Linked DNA regions of Homo sapiens. The protein of the gene in region 1 interacts with the protein of each later gene in a biochemical or structural test. Each region holds a gene or a part of one and is shown on either strand. Other genes may lie near its edges.

What was found. Proteins that work in one complex are often made in the same cells at the same time.
Region 2: of the proteins of ASB9 (region 1) and CKMT1A, one has a biochemical effect on the other in vitro, tested with the Homo sapiens proteins (one study listed by BioGRID).

Annotation. Positions count from the first base shown.
Region 1 is NC_000023.11:15,259,903-15,267,458, forward strand, and holds part of ASB9 (ankyrin repeat and SOCS box protein 9), read right to left. Parts: intron 1-7,556. UniProt on the Homo sapiens protein: Substrate-recognition component of a cullin-5-RING E3 ubiquitin-protein ligase complex (ECS complex, also named CRL5 complex), which mediates the ubiquitination and subsequent proteasomal degradation of target proteins.
Region 2 is NC_000015.10:43,688,677-43,697,200, reverse strand, and holds the start of CKMT1A (creatine kinase U-type, mitochondrial isoform 1 precursor), read right to left. Parts: upstream 3,343-8,524; 5' UTR 3,151-3,342; coding exon 3,002-3,150; intron 2,675-3,001; exon of another isoform or gene 2,491-2,674; coding exon of another isoform or gene 2,398-2,490; coding exon 2,199-2,397; intron 1,996-2,198; coding exon 1,900-1,995; intron 1,514-1,899; coding exon 1,292-1,513; exon of another isoform or gene 1,291-1,291; intron 1,163-1,290; coding exon 1,077-1,162; exon of another isoform or gene 1,073-1,076; intron 962-1,072; coding exon 838-961; intron 1-837. UniProt on the Homo sapiens protein: Reversibly catalyzes the transfer of phosphate between ATP and various phosphogens (e.g. creatine phosphate).

The DNA.
Region 1 (7,556 bases):
CCATCCACAAGATAAGTCATTATGTATATGCAAATATTCCAACATCTGAAAAAACTGGAAACACTTCTGGTCCCAAGGATTTCAGAGACGGGATGCTCAACCTGTACTTACCATGGCTCAACACATACTAGCTACTATTATTATCCTGCCCTAACACTAAACAGAGAGTCTTAATTATACCTCATCATCATTGCTATTTAAAATAGCAAATTTACACCAGGCGTGGTGGCTCACACCTGCAATCCCAGCACTTTGAGAGGCCGAGGTGGGCAGATCACCTGAGGTCAGGAGTTCGAGACCAGCCTTGCAACATGGTGAAACACCATCTCTAGTAAAAATGTAAAAATTAGCTGGGTGTGGTGGCTCACGCCTATAATCCCAGCTAGTCGGGAGGCTGAGGCGGGAGAATCGGTTGAACCCGGGAGGCGGAGGTTGCAGTGAGCCGAGATCATGCCACTGCACTCCAGCCTGGGTGACACAGTGAGACTCTGTCTCAAAAAAATAAAATAAAATAGCAAATTTATTCTACAACCACATAGAAGGAAAACAAATTCTTAGGAAAGAAGCCTGAAAACCCAATCCCAACCCATTAAATGCTTTCCTCTCTCTTAATTGAATATAACTGAATGAGGCATAGATCTGATTTTTTTCTCATCTCAAGCTTCATCTGATTTCCAGTAGAAATGTGAGGGAGGCGTGCCTGAACCTGCTTCAGCTCCAGCTCCACCTGCTTCGCCAAACACACTACATACAAACAAGGTAGAAAGGTCTGGTGCCAGTTATGCCTTGCACGGAAGCTAATAGCTCCTAAAAACTGAGAAGACCTGGAGAAGGAGGATACTTAACTATCTATACCTTGCAAACTGAAAGGCTATGAAGTATCCTTTGTATTTAACACATGTTGGCTTAACACTTTGTACTTAACACATGAGGCCCGTCTGTCTGCCACCTGAAGCCATCAGTGCCCTGGAAAATCTGTATTAGTAAGCAAATTACCATTCTTCCAGATGGATTCATTAAGCATTTAGTACATAAAAGGAAGACAAATGAGCCCATCTACATACCGCCCATCCAATGCTTTCCTTCTGGGGTCACTAAAGGTGCTTGAGACAAGGTACATCTTAAGTGAAATGGCTTTTCGTACCGTCAAAACCTCACGCTTAATAGATACTCAATGTCCTCACGGCATTCTCTGAGGCTCCTAATTATTTCTGGAATAATACTGCTGATTCTAGGGCTTGGAAGCTAAAATTCGGACTGCAGACATGGAAAGATTGATCTCCAAATTAGAATTAAAAGGACAACTAATTCCACCCTGTTGGTGCTGATAATGCCAAATACCATTCACACAAAATCTTGAATGAGAACAAAGAGCCACAAATTGAGAAAGGTTTTGAAAATCAGTTTTCAATAGATTTGCAAATGTATCTTGATGGATCACCATATGTATGATGATTAATCCACTTTTTTTTCCAAGTGCTCAGCTGCTAAGAAATACAGCTGCCACATTCCCCAACCTCTCTTAGAGCTCCCTAAGATTATTATTGTCGACAGGCTAAACAGTCCAGGCAGGTAGATTGCATCCTAATTTGTAACTGTCCAGATTTCATAAAAATGACGCATTTATCAAGTGTAGCCACAAATGGTCTTACTTTCTGCTCATTCATCATGGGACCATTACTCTTTCTATTTGGGGCAAATAAAGAAGTACGTACTTCTCCAAGAGAATAACAAGGCTATCTGAATTTGCACCTCTGCAGAATGTAGTGTTTACAGAGCAGAGACAGCTTGTGTCTTTGAGAAGTACAGAGTGTTGTCCTGGTACACGTAGTGAGGGGCTGACAATGTGAATATCTCTAGCTAGCTAGCTAGCAAGCAGCTGTATTGAGATATAATTCACATACCATACAATACACCCATTTAATGTGTACAATTCAGCAGTTTTCAGTATATTCAGAGCTATGCAACCAACACCACAATCAATTTTAGAACATTTTCATCACCCCAAAAAGAAACTCTGTGCCCATTAGCAGTCACTCCACAGTTCTACTTCCCTCAGCCCCTGGCAGCCATGGATCTACTTTCTGTCTCTATGGATTTGCCTATTCTGGACATTTCATATAAATGAAACCATACAGTATGTGGTACTTTGCAACTGGCTTCTTTTATTTAGCATGTTTCAAAGTTTCATCCATGTTGTAGCGTGCATCAGTACTTCATTCCTTTTTTTTTTTTTTTTGGCCAAATAATTCCATTGTATGGATAAGCCACATTTTATGTATTCATTCATCAGCTGATAAAAATTTGTGTCATTTCTACTTCTTGCCTATTATGAATAATGCTGCTATAAACATTCATATACAAGTTTTTGAGCAGATATATGTTTTCAATTCTCCTGAATATGCACCTAAAAGAATTGCTGTATGATATGGTAACACAATGTTTATTTTGAGACTGTTTTCCAAAGTGGCTGCCCTACTGTATGTTCCCATCAGCAGGATATGAGGCTTCCCCTTCTAACATAAAGTCATTTCAGTTCAGGGTTTGTTAAGCCTGTCACAGTATGCCTATGCTCCTGCCCAGAAGAAAAACGTGAGTCCCTGTAAAACTAAAATCCATCTCAAATTTATACAAGGACTTTGACCTCAGCAGGTATCAGAACAAATGAGTGATTATGTGAAAATTTACAGTAGTGACAATTAATAATTTAACATTTTTCTTTGTGTGTAATGTTCTGTTGGTTTTTTGAGACGGAGTCTCATTCTGTCACCCAGGCTGGAGTACAGTGGGGCAATCTTGGCTCACTGCAACCTCCACCTCCTGGGTTCAAGTGGTTCTCCTGCCTCAGCCTCTCAAGTAACTGGGACTACAGGTGCACACCATCACACTCAGTTAATTTTTGTAACTTTAGTAGAGACAGGATTTCACCATGTTGGCCAGGCTGGTCTCCAACTCCTGACCTCAAGTGATCCATGCGCCTCAGCCTCCCAAAGTGCTGGGATTATAGGCATGAGCCACTGCGCCTGGCCTAGTTTAACATTTTTCTAACATTCAGAGAGCATAGATTGTGTGTATGTGTGTGTGTATTAGCAAGAACTTATCTTTCTTTTAAATTGTACCCTCATCAAACCTGGAGCACATTAGGGAGGCTGCCATTTCATTTTTATTGTAATTTGTGGAACATTTTTTTCATTTCCATTATTTCAAAAGAGATTTAAGATGCACTAATTGCTACATGCTGAAAATAGCTATTACTGATGTTCTGAGAACCCCAGTGAATGCTGGGCGGTAGCATAAATCTACTCATCCTGAGAAACGTTTTGCAAAGTCAAGGAGACAAAAAAGAAGTCGGGTTGCTCTGAGGGGACAGGAGTATTTGCCTTCAGTCTTCAGGACACAATAAGGGTGGATTCAGTGGCATGAACCAACCTGCCAGAACCTGGAAAGTATCTGGGTGCTGTATTCACAATTATTGTGGACCTTGGTTTGATCCCAGGACAAACAGAAAGAGGAGAAAAAGAAACAAGAGGCTTACAGTCAGAAACAAACAGAAAGGCCCACTGAGGCAACTCTTGGGCAAGTCAGGCCTGTCCACTGCAGTTCTTTCTCCAGTTCCATCATCCAGCCTCTCCTCTCCTCTTTCTTCTCTCTCTTCTCTCTCTTCTCTTTCCTGTCTCCCTCTCTCTTCTCTCTCTCTCTCTCTCTCTCAATATAAAGCTGCCTTCTCCAAAGGGCCCTCACATTATCACCCATTCTGTCTCAACAGGCAGGTTTTCCCCCAGAAAACTCACCCCTCCTGAGGTGCCCCAATATCTAAAAATTCACCATAAGACAATAAAATTGTTTTCTTTCAATACCTGTTCTAGCTTGTCTTCTGTTTAAATGTGAATACTCTCTACAGGGTGGGCTCAATTTTGCAAGGATAGAAATATCTCTACAGTTGTCAGTCTTCAGGCAAAACCCCAAAAGATAGACACTAACACTGGGAACAGTGATTACCTGCTTGGTGGAATTATGGGTGGTTAGTTTATCCTTCAATGTATTTTCCTAAGTTTCTATGAGTAGGTATAAATTAGCCTCCTAGGGATACCATAACGAAACACCACAAACTGGGTGGCTTAAAACAACAGAAATTTGTTGTCGCCGAGTCCTAGAGGCTAGCAGTTGGCTAGAAGTCTGAAATCAAGGTGTGGACAGGGCCATACTCTATCCAAAGGCTCTAGGGAAAAATCCTTCCTTGCCTCTTCTAGCTTCTGGCAGTGGCCATCAGTCCTTGGTGTTCCTTGGTTTCTAGATGTGTCACTCCTATCTCTGCCTCTGTTGTCACATAGCATTCTCCATGTGTCTCCTTCTCCTTTTCTTATAGGGACTCTGGTCATGTTGGATTAAGGTCCATCCTACCCTACTTACGACCTCACCTGAACTAATCTTAACTAATAAGGTCACATTCTGAGGCACGGGGGTTAAGAACTTAACCATATATATTTTCAGGGTACACAATTTAACTCGTAACAAGCTACTTTCAGGAAAAAATTAAGACATTCTTTCCCTGCTCCTTGGACAGGAGAGTCTAACATGAAACAAATCTCTATAAAGAGTTGGTTGCCCATTTTTATAGCCTTTCCTCCCTCCCTACCCCCAGGGAAGTGGGCAGAAAAACGCCTGCAGGTGGAGGTGGGAGCAGCAAGATGATCCACACCTGGGCCCTATTTTCCCCTCTAACTTGGCCTTGTGCAAAGGGACAAGCTTCACCTGAGCTGAGTTTCTTGGCACAGCTATTTGAAAACAGCATTCTGAGTGTTCCCCATTCCACACTTCACCAAGGTTAAGACCTCAGAAGCATAAACAAAAGCAACCAACTACAATTGAGGTTTTACCCAAGGGGCAGGACTGATGCAAAGCAGACGGAGAATGACTCCACTTGAGTAGGGAGAGGTGGAAAGTCTAGGAGGGCTTCATGGGGGCAATGGCTCAGCTGGGTGTAGAAGGTGAGTAGCAATTTGCCAGTCAGATTCACAACAGGAGGTAAGAAACCAGAAGTATCCAGGCACCTACCCTTGTGACTTCTACTTCTTTGAAAACTTCTCTTCCCTTAGCACCTGTGTAATTACAACATCCAGAATCTCTTTCTGCTTCTCTGTCCAACTTACTGGTCCTACTTCATCAACTGGAGGCCTGTCCCAGGGTTCCATCCTTGGTTGACTCTCAGCTCTTAGCCATTGGACAATTTCTCCCTTCCCTAGGTTTCAACCACAGCCCCTCTGTAGGACATTCTGAGGTATCTGGCTTCTAACCTGTGATCGTTCCTAAGTCTCAGTCCCATGTCATCATACTGTGCACTGGGCATCATTGTTAGCACTATCATGTCCAAAACAGAACTCTGTATCCTCCCCTCCTCATCCTGCATCCAAGGCAACTTCCTTTCCAACTTCCCTCTTATCTAGCTTATCTGACATTACTTTGGGCTTGAGAACCTTATAATTTTGCCTGCCTTCTGTTAGTTCCAACATTTAATCAAGCAACATACGCTGATTTATCTTTCCTTTGAAATCATCGCCCTTTCTCTGTCATTTCCAAAGTTCGATCCAAATGTAAGTTTCATGGTTGGATTAGTGCAGTAGTTTTCAAAGTATGGTCCCTGACCAGTACCATCCATTTCACCTGGGAGTTTGTTATGAATGCAGATTCCTAGGCCCCCACCCCAGGCCTACGACTTCATCAAAAGCTGCATCATCTGCATTTTTTTTTTTTGAGACAGAGTCTCGCTCTGTTGCCCAGGCTGGAGTACAGTGGCATGATCTCAGCTCACTGCAACCTCCGCCCTCCCAAGTTCAAGCAATTCTCCTGCCTCGGCCTCCTAAGTAGCTGGGACTACAGGCATGTGCCAACACACCCAGCTAATTTTTTTTTTTTTTTTTGAGACAGAGTTTCACTCTTGTTGCCCAGGTTGGAGTGCAGTGGTGTGATCTCGGCTCACCACAACCTCTGCCTCCCGGGTTCAAGCGACTTTCCTGCCTCAGCCTCCCGGGTAGCTGGGATTACAGGCATGCACCACCATGCCCGGCTAATTTTGTATTTTTAGTAAAGACTGGGTTTCTCCATGTTGGTCAGGCTGGTCTGGAACTCCCAACCTCAGGTGATCCGCCTGCCTCGGCCTCCCAAAGTGCTGGGATTACAGGTGTGAGGCACTGCACCCAGTCAAATGTTTGTATTTTTAGTAGAGATGGGGTTTCACCATGTTGGATAGGCTGGTCTGGAACTCCTGACCTCAAGTGATCCGCCCACCTCAGCCTCCCAAAGTGCTGGGATTACAGGCGTGAGCCACCGTGCCCAGCCAGAAGCTGCATTATCTGTATTTCAATAAGCTCTCCAGGTGATGTAGAGGCACATGAGAATTTGAGAACCACTGGATGAATGCAACCATCTCCCACGATTCCAACACAATCTATCCCAGCTGTGGCTACCATGTTAATTGACCTACAGCCTTATTACCAGGTCTCTGTTCTAGAACCACCAATGGCTCTCAATTTCCTGCCTCATGAAGCCTGACCTCCTCCACTTAGCTCTTCAAGCTTTATCTGCCACTCCATCTCTTCAAACTTGTTCTCACTAGACTCCCTAAGACATTCACATTTTGCACTCTAGCTGTAAAAACTTGTTGACTTTACAAGCACCATGCCTTTGCGTATAACACCTGCCCACTCCCACTCACCCACCCTGACCCCACCAGGGTTGTATTAGGAACTTTAGAAATCCTGAACAGTTGGCTCACGCCTGTAATCCCAGCACTTTGGGAGGCCAAGGTGGGTGGATCACGAGGTCAGGAGATTGAGACCATCCTGGCTAACATGGTGAAACCCCGTCTCTACTAAAAATACAAAAAATTAGCCGGGCGTGGTGGCGGGCGCCTGTAGTCCCAGCTACTCAGGAGGCTGAGGCAGGAGAATGGCGTGAACCCGGGAGGCGGAGCTTGCAGTGAGCCAAGATTGTGCCACTGCACTCCAGCCTGGGCGACAGAGCGAGACTCCATCTCAAAAAAAAAAAAAAAAAAGAAAAAGAAACCCTAACAGTGAAAAGTGGCTGGTGCCTCTCTCCCATGTGGAAACAAAAATAAATACAATACTTAGCTATAAAATAACCGTGCAGAAGTCAACCAAATTACCGATTCTTTCCCATAATGATTGGTTTGCTGTTTTAAAAATATATTTATCGGCCGGGCACAGTGGCTCACACCTGTAATCCTAGCACTTTGGGAGGCCGAGGCGGGCAGACTTCCCTGAGCTCAGGAGTTGGAGACCAGCCTGGGGCAACATGGTGAAACCCCGTCTCTACTAAAATACAAAAAAAAAACACCCCAAAAAATTAGCCAGGCGTGTGCCTGTAGTCCCACCTAGTCCCTGCCTCTCCCTCCTGAGGCAGAATTGCTTGAACCCAGGAGGCCGAGGTTGCAGTGAGCCGAGATGGTGCCACTGCACTCCAGCCTGGTAACAGAGCGAGACTCCATCTAAAAAAAAAATATATATATATATATAATTATATATATAATTCCTTGTAAA
Region 2 (8,524 bases), on another chromosome or scaffold:
CAACCTAAAATGTAGAAAATCTCATTATCCCAATTTTACAGATGAGGAAACTGAGGCATATAATTTAAAGGTACTTCCCTACCCACTCATAGTCAGAATATGTTATCTATTACTTGCCAAAAATAGTAGAAACTTCTCAGAATCTAAAAGAGGAGCTCTTTTTCTTTGCAAACCTAAAATAGAACTGTATGTTTGAGAACATACAGTAAGAATTGAATTGAGTTTATGGGGATTTCTAATGTAGACTTGAATACGGAGACCCAATCCATGTAGGATTGATGATTCAGTTCAACCTCTCATCTAGAGCCACATATTCTAGAACTCGAACCATTCTATCCTCCACCTTCCCCAGTCTCCCTCTGAACTCTCAACTTAAAGCCTAGACCCGATACTTTAACAAGAATGATAGAATCCAGAGTCAAGGCCTACCTTGTCTCAGAACTGGGTGGTTATATTAGAGTCATGAACACAGCAACCTCTCCCCGCCAACATCAATCTAAGCTCGAATGTTTTCCTTATCTGCACACCTCACCATCCCACTGCACACATCCCAGGCACTGACGTGCCATCTCAGTTATTCCTTCTTTGCATTACCTGCCTTCTTCACTTTCTAAGGTTCCTGACACTCTTTTCCTAATCTTAGTGTGACCACATGTCCTGGTTTTCCCAGTATGGTCCCAGCTGGTTTATACCTTTAGTCCTAGAGTGAGTCCTAGGTAGTCCTTTTTACCATCAGACATGTCTTGGGTTGGTTGATAAATTACATAATCTATTTATGCTACTCTTTGGTTTTCCTTATGTCCTCCCACCTAGCTCCCCTACACAATCTTCTCTAACCTCTTTGAGGCCTCGGCAGAATCTTTCAAACACTCTCTTCATGTTACCACCCTTCTCCATGGAGATCACCCGTGTATGATCCTCCTCATTCACCCAGATCAGGAAGCTCTTCTCATTGTTGTGCCTGAGGGCCGGAGAGGGACAGTGATCAAGAGGCAAGGCAAGAATTGGGAGAGATAGAGGGAAAAAAAGCATTTATGAGGGCATGAAGACAAAAGAGGTAATGAGCAGCTTCATACCAAATTCCACGAGCATCTGGCCAGTCTCGAGCCATTCCTGCTGCAGTCAGCAACGGGGACACAGGCTTATCAAACAGAAAGTGGTCCTGGGAAGAGTAACGGGACTTGGGTTAAGAATCTTCATGGTGGCCCCTGGGCCTTTCAGAGCCCATGTCTCATCTGGCCCAGCCTTCCCCATCTGCTCCCACCAACCAGCACCCTCTTAAGGCCCTCACATCAATAAGCTGCTGCTGTTCAGCCTCTGTCATCTCACTGAGCCTATAGTAACGTCCAGCCAGGTCACCCTTCAGGCCACTCAGTGCATCCACCACAACACGTTCCACCTCTCGTCGCTCTGCTCGAGTGCAAGCTGGAGGCAGACTGAGTCCTCGGATGCTTCGGCCAGTTCTGACTCTAGAGGACAATACATACCTCTCATCAAAGTAGCCAGAACGGATCTGGGAGATAAGGGAAATGAATGTAAGTCACAGAAACACGGTGGGAACTGAGGGCCCCTGGGAAAGGAGAGACCTTCCTTAGGCATTAGAGGACTCTTTGTGCATTCTTCCTGCATGCATTGGAAGAAGAGGCCCTTTGGGAAAGCACTGGAATTGAAGGGGGCATTGCAGACCTTTCCCCAAACCACCCACCTTGGGTCATGGTCATTCTTATCTATCCTTCCATCTCCATATATGCTGCCCCTTAAGATATGATTCTTTCCTTACATTAAGATTAAAAGCTCAGCTGTATAATGACCATGAGTCAGGAAATAAGGTGAAGGGGTTGGAGATACAGAGTGTTGTACACAGGCAATGCAAATCAGAAGTGGGATATTTGAACTCACTTTACTGGCATCTAGATCCGTGGTGTGCTTCATTGTCCGGGGGTCATATCCATTGTGTCGCTCTTGGATCACAGGGTCAAACAGGTCAGCAAATACCTAAGGGGAGTTAAGAGGGAGAGATGGTTAAGGAGAGGGAATCCCTCCCCAGACTTCAATTGTGCATTGATTTCACTGGTTCAGAAAACTTAAGTATGGGGGGCTCAGAGTCTTGGGGGAAAGTGAGAGGTCTTTAGGGGAAAGGAGCTGGGATTACTGGGAAGATGAATTGGATCATCAGGGAGACTCTGGGGACCCCCTACCTCATAGGTCTCCTCATCTCCAGCCACCATGCCCACAGTCTTGATGAAGGGGTGGCCAGGGTTGTCCACGCCAGTCTGGATACACTGATCTAGCGTCCAACCAGTGGGTGTGGTCTTGTCGCAGAGCCGTGCATAGACTGCTGGGGTCAGGTGACTGGCCATGCAGTTGTTGTGCTTTCGGAGGTCTGGGTACTCAGCGCTGGGGAGGGGGTACCCAGTAACCATGGAGGGAGGGCACAGACGCCTAGACCTAGTGCAGTTACCTGGGAGCTGTCCAGTTGGCCATGTCTGGCTTTGCTCCGCGGGAGGAGGGGGAATTAGAAAGAGGGTAAACCTTGGTAATCTCTTTAGGGACTTTCAGAGTCTATGCTTTCCTAATAGTTCTAGTTGCCTCTGGCTGGCCAGCTCAGTTTCTTCAGATCTGCTCAGTTCTTTCCTCCCATGACACAACACTACGGATGGAGGAGGGGAAAAGCCTAAGGAGAGGAATTGAGGAAATGAGGGAAGGAGATGGAGGGGAGCGAAAAGGATAGTTCCTGGCTTTACAATTAGGGATTTGGGCAGCCAGTGCAGCTAGAACTCGTAGGGCCAGAGCTGGTCTTGGCAGGTCCCCAGGAATGTTCTTGCTTTATGGTTTTGGCCCCCACCCCCACCCCACTGAGGTCTGCAGACTGCACAGCCCTCCAGCTCCAGGGCCTTCGTGATTATAGCCCTTCTCTGTTGCCCGGATTCTCACTTCTACCCGCACCTTCGTTCCCATCACCTCCTGCCCCCGCCTCCTCCCGCGCCTCAGGCACTGTTACCTCGGGGGATACAGCCTCCGTCGTTCACTGGCAGCTCGTACAGGTTCCGGTCGGAGCAGAAACCCAGCGGCTAGAGACCCCGCTCCGGCCAAAGCCAGGAGCCTGAGTCCCGGGCGGGCGGACAGCAGACGGGAGAAGGGACCAGCCATGGCTTGAGGTCTGGCTACGGGATCCTGGAGTAGGCGCTGGCGCAAGATAAGATCCGGAACAGGGAGGGAGGATGCAACCGGATAGACCGAGGGCCGGAGCTAGGTCCGAGGCTGCAGCCGAAATGGGGGTCGGATTGGAGGCTGGAGCCGGAATGGGAGCCGGTGCCAATCAGACTGCAGGAGAGGCGCAATGAGCTAGTGGCAGGCGGGCGGGCGGAGGAGAGGGAGGCCCCAGCCGCAGTCTCCAGGGGTGGGGCTCCCCCAGGCCCCGCCTTCCCGCCTGCCACCGCGCTAGGTGCGCGAGGGCAGGGGTGGGCAGCACCCGCCAGGTAATTAGCGGGACCTGAGACTCGCGCGTCTAAAGCCGGGGATGTAGCCCCCTCCCGCCCCGGGGATGTGGCCGCCCAGATTTCAGCACCAAGTGGAGGACAGCACCCACGTGGACTAGCTGAACCCAACACCCTTCCCCCACACCCCTCGGTTTAAGCTGAAACTCGATCCGTCTACCCTGTGGGTGTGCAAGGGTGACACTGCCCAACCTTTCCTCTGCTTTCGGCCTGCCCCAGCCACCTCTTCGGTCTCCCGGGGGCAGCCGCGGGGAAACCGCGGAATAAACACAGATACCAGAGGAGGATATGGAGAAAGCACAGGGTTAGAGGCAGGCACTGGGAAAGACACCCACTGGCTCAAGGTCACCTTTTCCTTAGAACCAGGAAGAGGAGCAAGGTGCTTCCTTGCCACCTCTGTGCACGCCTTACAAAGTTGAGAAAGGACTCCCTGGGAGGAACCAAGGAAATATTAATTCTTATGCCATCTGTGCTGTGTCCTCCACCTCCATTCTGCACCCAAGTCTGAAGCCCTGTTATTTCCTGCCTCTGCTTCTCATGATCCCCCACTTTTTGTTTTCCTTTTGTCTCTCCCACTTTCCTCCACGTCCCCTACCTCACCTTTGATCTTTTACTTCTCTGCGTCTTTTCCAGGCTCAGATGTGTTTGCTGCTCACAGGATGCCCTCTGCGTTTTCTCGGCAAGCTTGCCCACCTGTTGGTGGTGCTGGGTGTGGGGGTGGGCAGGGAATCGTTAGTTTCCTCCTCCTCCTCTCCCTTGGCTTCTCTCTCCGTAGTTCCTAGTTCCTGTGCTGGAGGAGAAGGTAAAGTGAGGTGAAGGGTGTGGTGAGATGACTGGGTGTGGGACTGGAACAGGCAGGCACAGGTCTCCAGACACCACATGTGTTTCCTCTCTTGTCTCCCTAATGCTGTTTAATCCAGAGAGTAAAGGCGAGTGGTGTACAAAGGCATGAGGTGGTCAGGGAATCTCTGCCTTCCTCGTGGTCCCCTCTGCTGCTCTCTCTCTCCTCGTGAAACACATATTCAGATTTGAGAGGGCTTTGTTTCCCAGCTCCAGGTATGATTTGACCTTTGTCCTGGTAGCAAGGAGAATGAATGCTAGAGTTGAAATAGAGATGAGGGGCTTCAGCGTGGAGGGTCAGTTAAGGTGGAGTAGCACCGTGGCATTAGTCCCTTCCCTCTGCTATCCTGGTGTACCCACAAGACAGATACTTGGAAATCTTAACAGAGAGTATTTGGGAAAGAGAATTCCCTTTACATAGAAAATTCCCCCATATTACTCTCATTCCCTTCATTCTCCTTAGGCCTTCCTTGTGTCCTTTTATTCTACCTTTGTCATTTGTGGGTATTCTTAGAAGTGTCCACTTCTCTCTTGGGTCCATCCCTTCTTCTTCTGGTAAGACATCAATTATTAGAGAACAGAGTTATGCAGCTGTAGTGTGGAAAATGTTACCTGTGTTGTGGGGCCTCTTTACCTAGGTTGAAAAGTAGCCATGAGTAAATAAATATAATTTCTTAGAATAGCGTGTATTTATCCAGATAAATAGGGAGATAATCTTCCAGAGCAGTAGGGTTGCTATTTGATTGAGAGGGTGTTACTAAGGAATAGGAAGTGGGAAGAGATAATTACCGAAGGAGAAATAAGACAGCCAGAGGAGTAGAGAAATTACCCAAGTTTAGAGAGTAGCTTCCCAAATGTGAACAATAATTCCACTGAGAAAACACATGTACTTATGCACTTTTCTTATCCCTTGTGTGCCTTTTACAAGCACATAATATATTAATGCTCATTTAAAAAATTATTTTGCAGCATATGGAAGTAATCAATATATGGTATTGTTATATGGTATTTCATTTATTTAATAAGAATTATTGTTGTCAATAGTATTTAATATTTTTAAAGCACTTTACAATTACAAGGAACTTTTATATGTATTATTTCATTGAGTTGAATTGGATTGTTCCAATGATTACTGGGGACAGAGTCTACATTTTCATGGGGATAGTAAGGGGAGTTAAATACCTGGAAGATGCTGTAATAGCTAGTTTGAAGGGCTAGAGTGGTGGAGGGGGTATGAGCCTGAGCATGAACTAGGGAGGCATCTATTCCTCTTAGAATAATCTATTCAAGCCATTAGAATCATTTCTATGTCCATTCAGGAGGCCTTGTGGGGTCAGTACAATGAGGCACGACTGGAAAAGTGGCAAGACCCCTAATATTGCAGAGAAGGAAAAGGGAACAACTGTCTTGACCAGGGAAACCCAAGTGAAGATGCGAGGATAATAAGAGCAATAACATATACAATACAAAATGCTTTCATATTATCAGTACCTTTAAGTGAGGTGTTTTGTTGTTGTTGTTTTTTGAGACAGGGCCTCGCTCTGTCACCCAGGTTGGAATGTAGTGAGGTGATCTTGGCTCACTGCAAACTCCATCTCCCAGGCTCAAGTGATCCTCCCGCCTCAGCCTCCTAAGTAGCTGGGAGCACAGGCATACGCCACCACACCTGGCTAGCTTTTGCATTTCTTGTAGAGACAGAGTTTCATCATGTTGACCAGGCTGGTCTTGAACTCCTTGCACTCCAGCGATCTGCCCGCCTCGGCCTCCCAACGTACTGGGATTGTAGGCGCGAGCCACTACAATTGGCCTTAATTAGGTTTTTGGGGGGTTTTTTTGGGTTCTTTTTTTTTTTTTGAGAAGGAGTCTGGCTTTCTCACCAGGCTGGGGTGCAGTGGCGCCATTTCGGCTCACTGCAGTCTCCACCTCCCGGGTTCAAACGATTCTCCTGCCTCAGCCTCCCGAGTAGCTGGGATTACAGGTGCGCACCACCACACTCGGCTAATTTCTGTATATTCAGTAGAGACGGGGTTTCACCATGTTGGCCAGGATGATCTCGACCTCCTGACCTAGTGATCCGCCTAACTTGGCCTCCGAAAGTGCTGGGATTACAGGCGTGAGCCACCGAGCCCAGCCCTAGGTTTTTAATCCTATTTTTATGGATGAGAAAAATAAAGGCTCAGAGAAATTAAGTGAGTCGCTCAAGGCTGCACAGCTATTAGAGGTAAGGCCAGGATTCAAATCCAGCTTTGTCTGGAGCATAGAGAAAAAGCAGGCTGTGGAGATAGGAATCAATTTGTCTAGAGTTCCAGGTCCATCCACTTTCTTGCCTCCTCTGTAAATGTCTCTCTGTTCCTTCCCTTAACTTTCTTATCTGCTTCTCTCCTTGTCTCTTTTTTGTCTCCAGTCTCCCTATCAGTCCTCTTTACATCTGTTAAAATTTTCAACCTTTATTTATTGGATCTGTACATATATGAGACCCTGTTTTGTCTCATAAGACAAAGGGAAGACCTGGTTTTTGCTCTGAAGGAACAGCAATGGCACAAACTCTGCCTCTTCCTCTTTCTCAGCATGAGGCTTCCCACCCACCCCGTCGTCTCATGAAACGTCTCTGTCTAGACCACGCTTCTGGACTTTGGCGACACACTAAGAAATCAAAGGAAGGGAGCATCAAGTTGCATTCCCTCCCAGAGCCACTAGGGGTCACGCTCCTCCGCGCAGAAGCGCCGGCCAACGCAGCCTGACTCTGTTACCGGTGCGCGCCCTTCGCTGATTGGTGGAACCGCAAAGAAGTCGCGCTTTGATTGGGCCGCTGTCAGGTGTCGCTGCCTGCAGGTTCGGCTGCGCGAGCGGAGGGAGGCGGGTGAGTGAAGGCCGGGGGCGGTGGGGGAGTGGCTGGGGCTGGGGGCGGTATCGGACCGGGTGGGCGCGGTAGAGTGGGCTTGGTGGGTTCCCAGGGCTGGGGTTCGTTCCGGGTGGGCTCCGCTTTGGGAAGAGGCCCAGCGGAGGGGCCTTAGTGTCAGCGTAGGGAGAGTGAGGCGGCGAAGGCGGGGGCGGGCAAAGGCTAGTGGAGTCGGGATGCGAGGGCGGTATTCGTGACCCGGAGCTGTGCGAGGAGAGTACCGAGGAGGGGGTCGGCGGGAGAGGAGATAGGTATGTGGGGGTCTGCGTGAGGAAGAGGGGGTCCTGTGGGAGGATGGAGGAGCGGAGTCGTACAGGGGAGAGGATCAAGGTGGAAGGGATCTGCGCCAGGAGGGGTGGGGCTGGAGTCCAGGAGGAAGGGGGTAGCTTGAGGAATGGGTTGCGGCTGAGAGAAGACAGCCTGGAGGGAGGGGTGATGTGAGGAAAGAATGGATGGCAGGTCGTCATTGTGGGGGGTCACTGAGGGGTCAATATAAAGATGTTACCAAGTATGATGACTCGTGCGAGAGGGTGAAGGAGTTTAATACTGGGCAATCAGTGAGTGCGAGGATTAGTTGGATTAATGGAATTAGTTGACCAATGATGCGGGGTGGGATGGGGAGGCTGCAGTCAGTATTGGGGCAAGAGTCATAGCAAGTTGGGGAAAGAAGGCGAAACGAAGCAGCTGATACTGAGAACAGGGAGAGGAGCACAGTTGATCAGAGTCGGAATGAGGAGTGTGTCTGAAGAATTAAAAATTGCATTAAGAAGGAAGTGAGGCGTCCACTGTTCAAGGTGGGCAGAAAATAGTGTTGGTGGCCTGAGGAGTTTTTCTGTGTTGGAAGTATTCCTGCCTGGAATTTGTATTGATATTTCCTCTTCGCTACCAATGGAGTCCACCATCAAGTGCATAGTGATTTAGGAAATTAGATGACTATGCAAGGAGCCCTAAATTCTAAGGGTTAAAGAAGTTACACCGTTTACCCTCCCTTCTACCCCTTCTCCAGATCTAACATAGATGTTCCTGAGAAGATTGCCTGCCTGCCCCTCCCTCGTTACCTTACTCGCCTATCTCCTTGCTTCTTTCCTTCCATTCACATTGATTCCTGTCAGAGTAAGACTGCCCTTTAGCCCAGTGTGGAGTGTGAAGTTTTCTTTTCTTTCACAACAAAGCTTGGGGGAGAGGCGGATGGGGAGAAGAGCATGGAAAACAGGGAAGCGGCTCTGGGAACACCACATTAAAGCCCATCTTCTCCCAGAGGTGCATCTAAATAAATCCTGGCTTATTT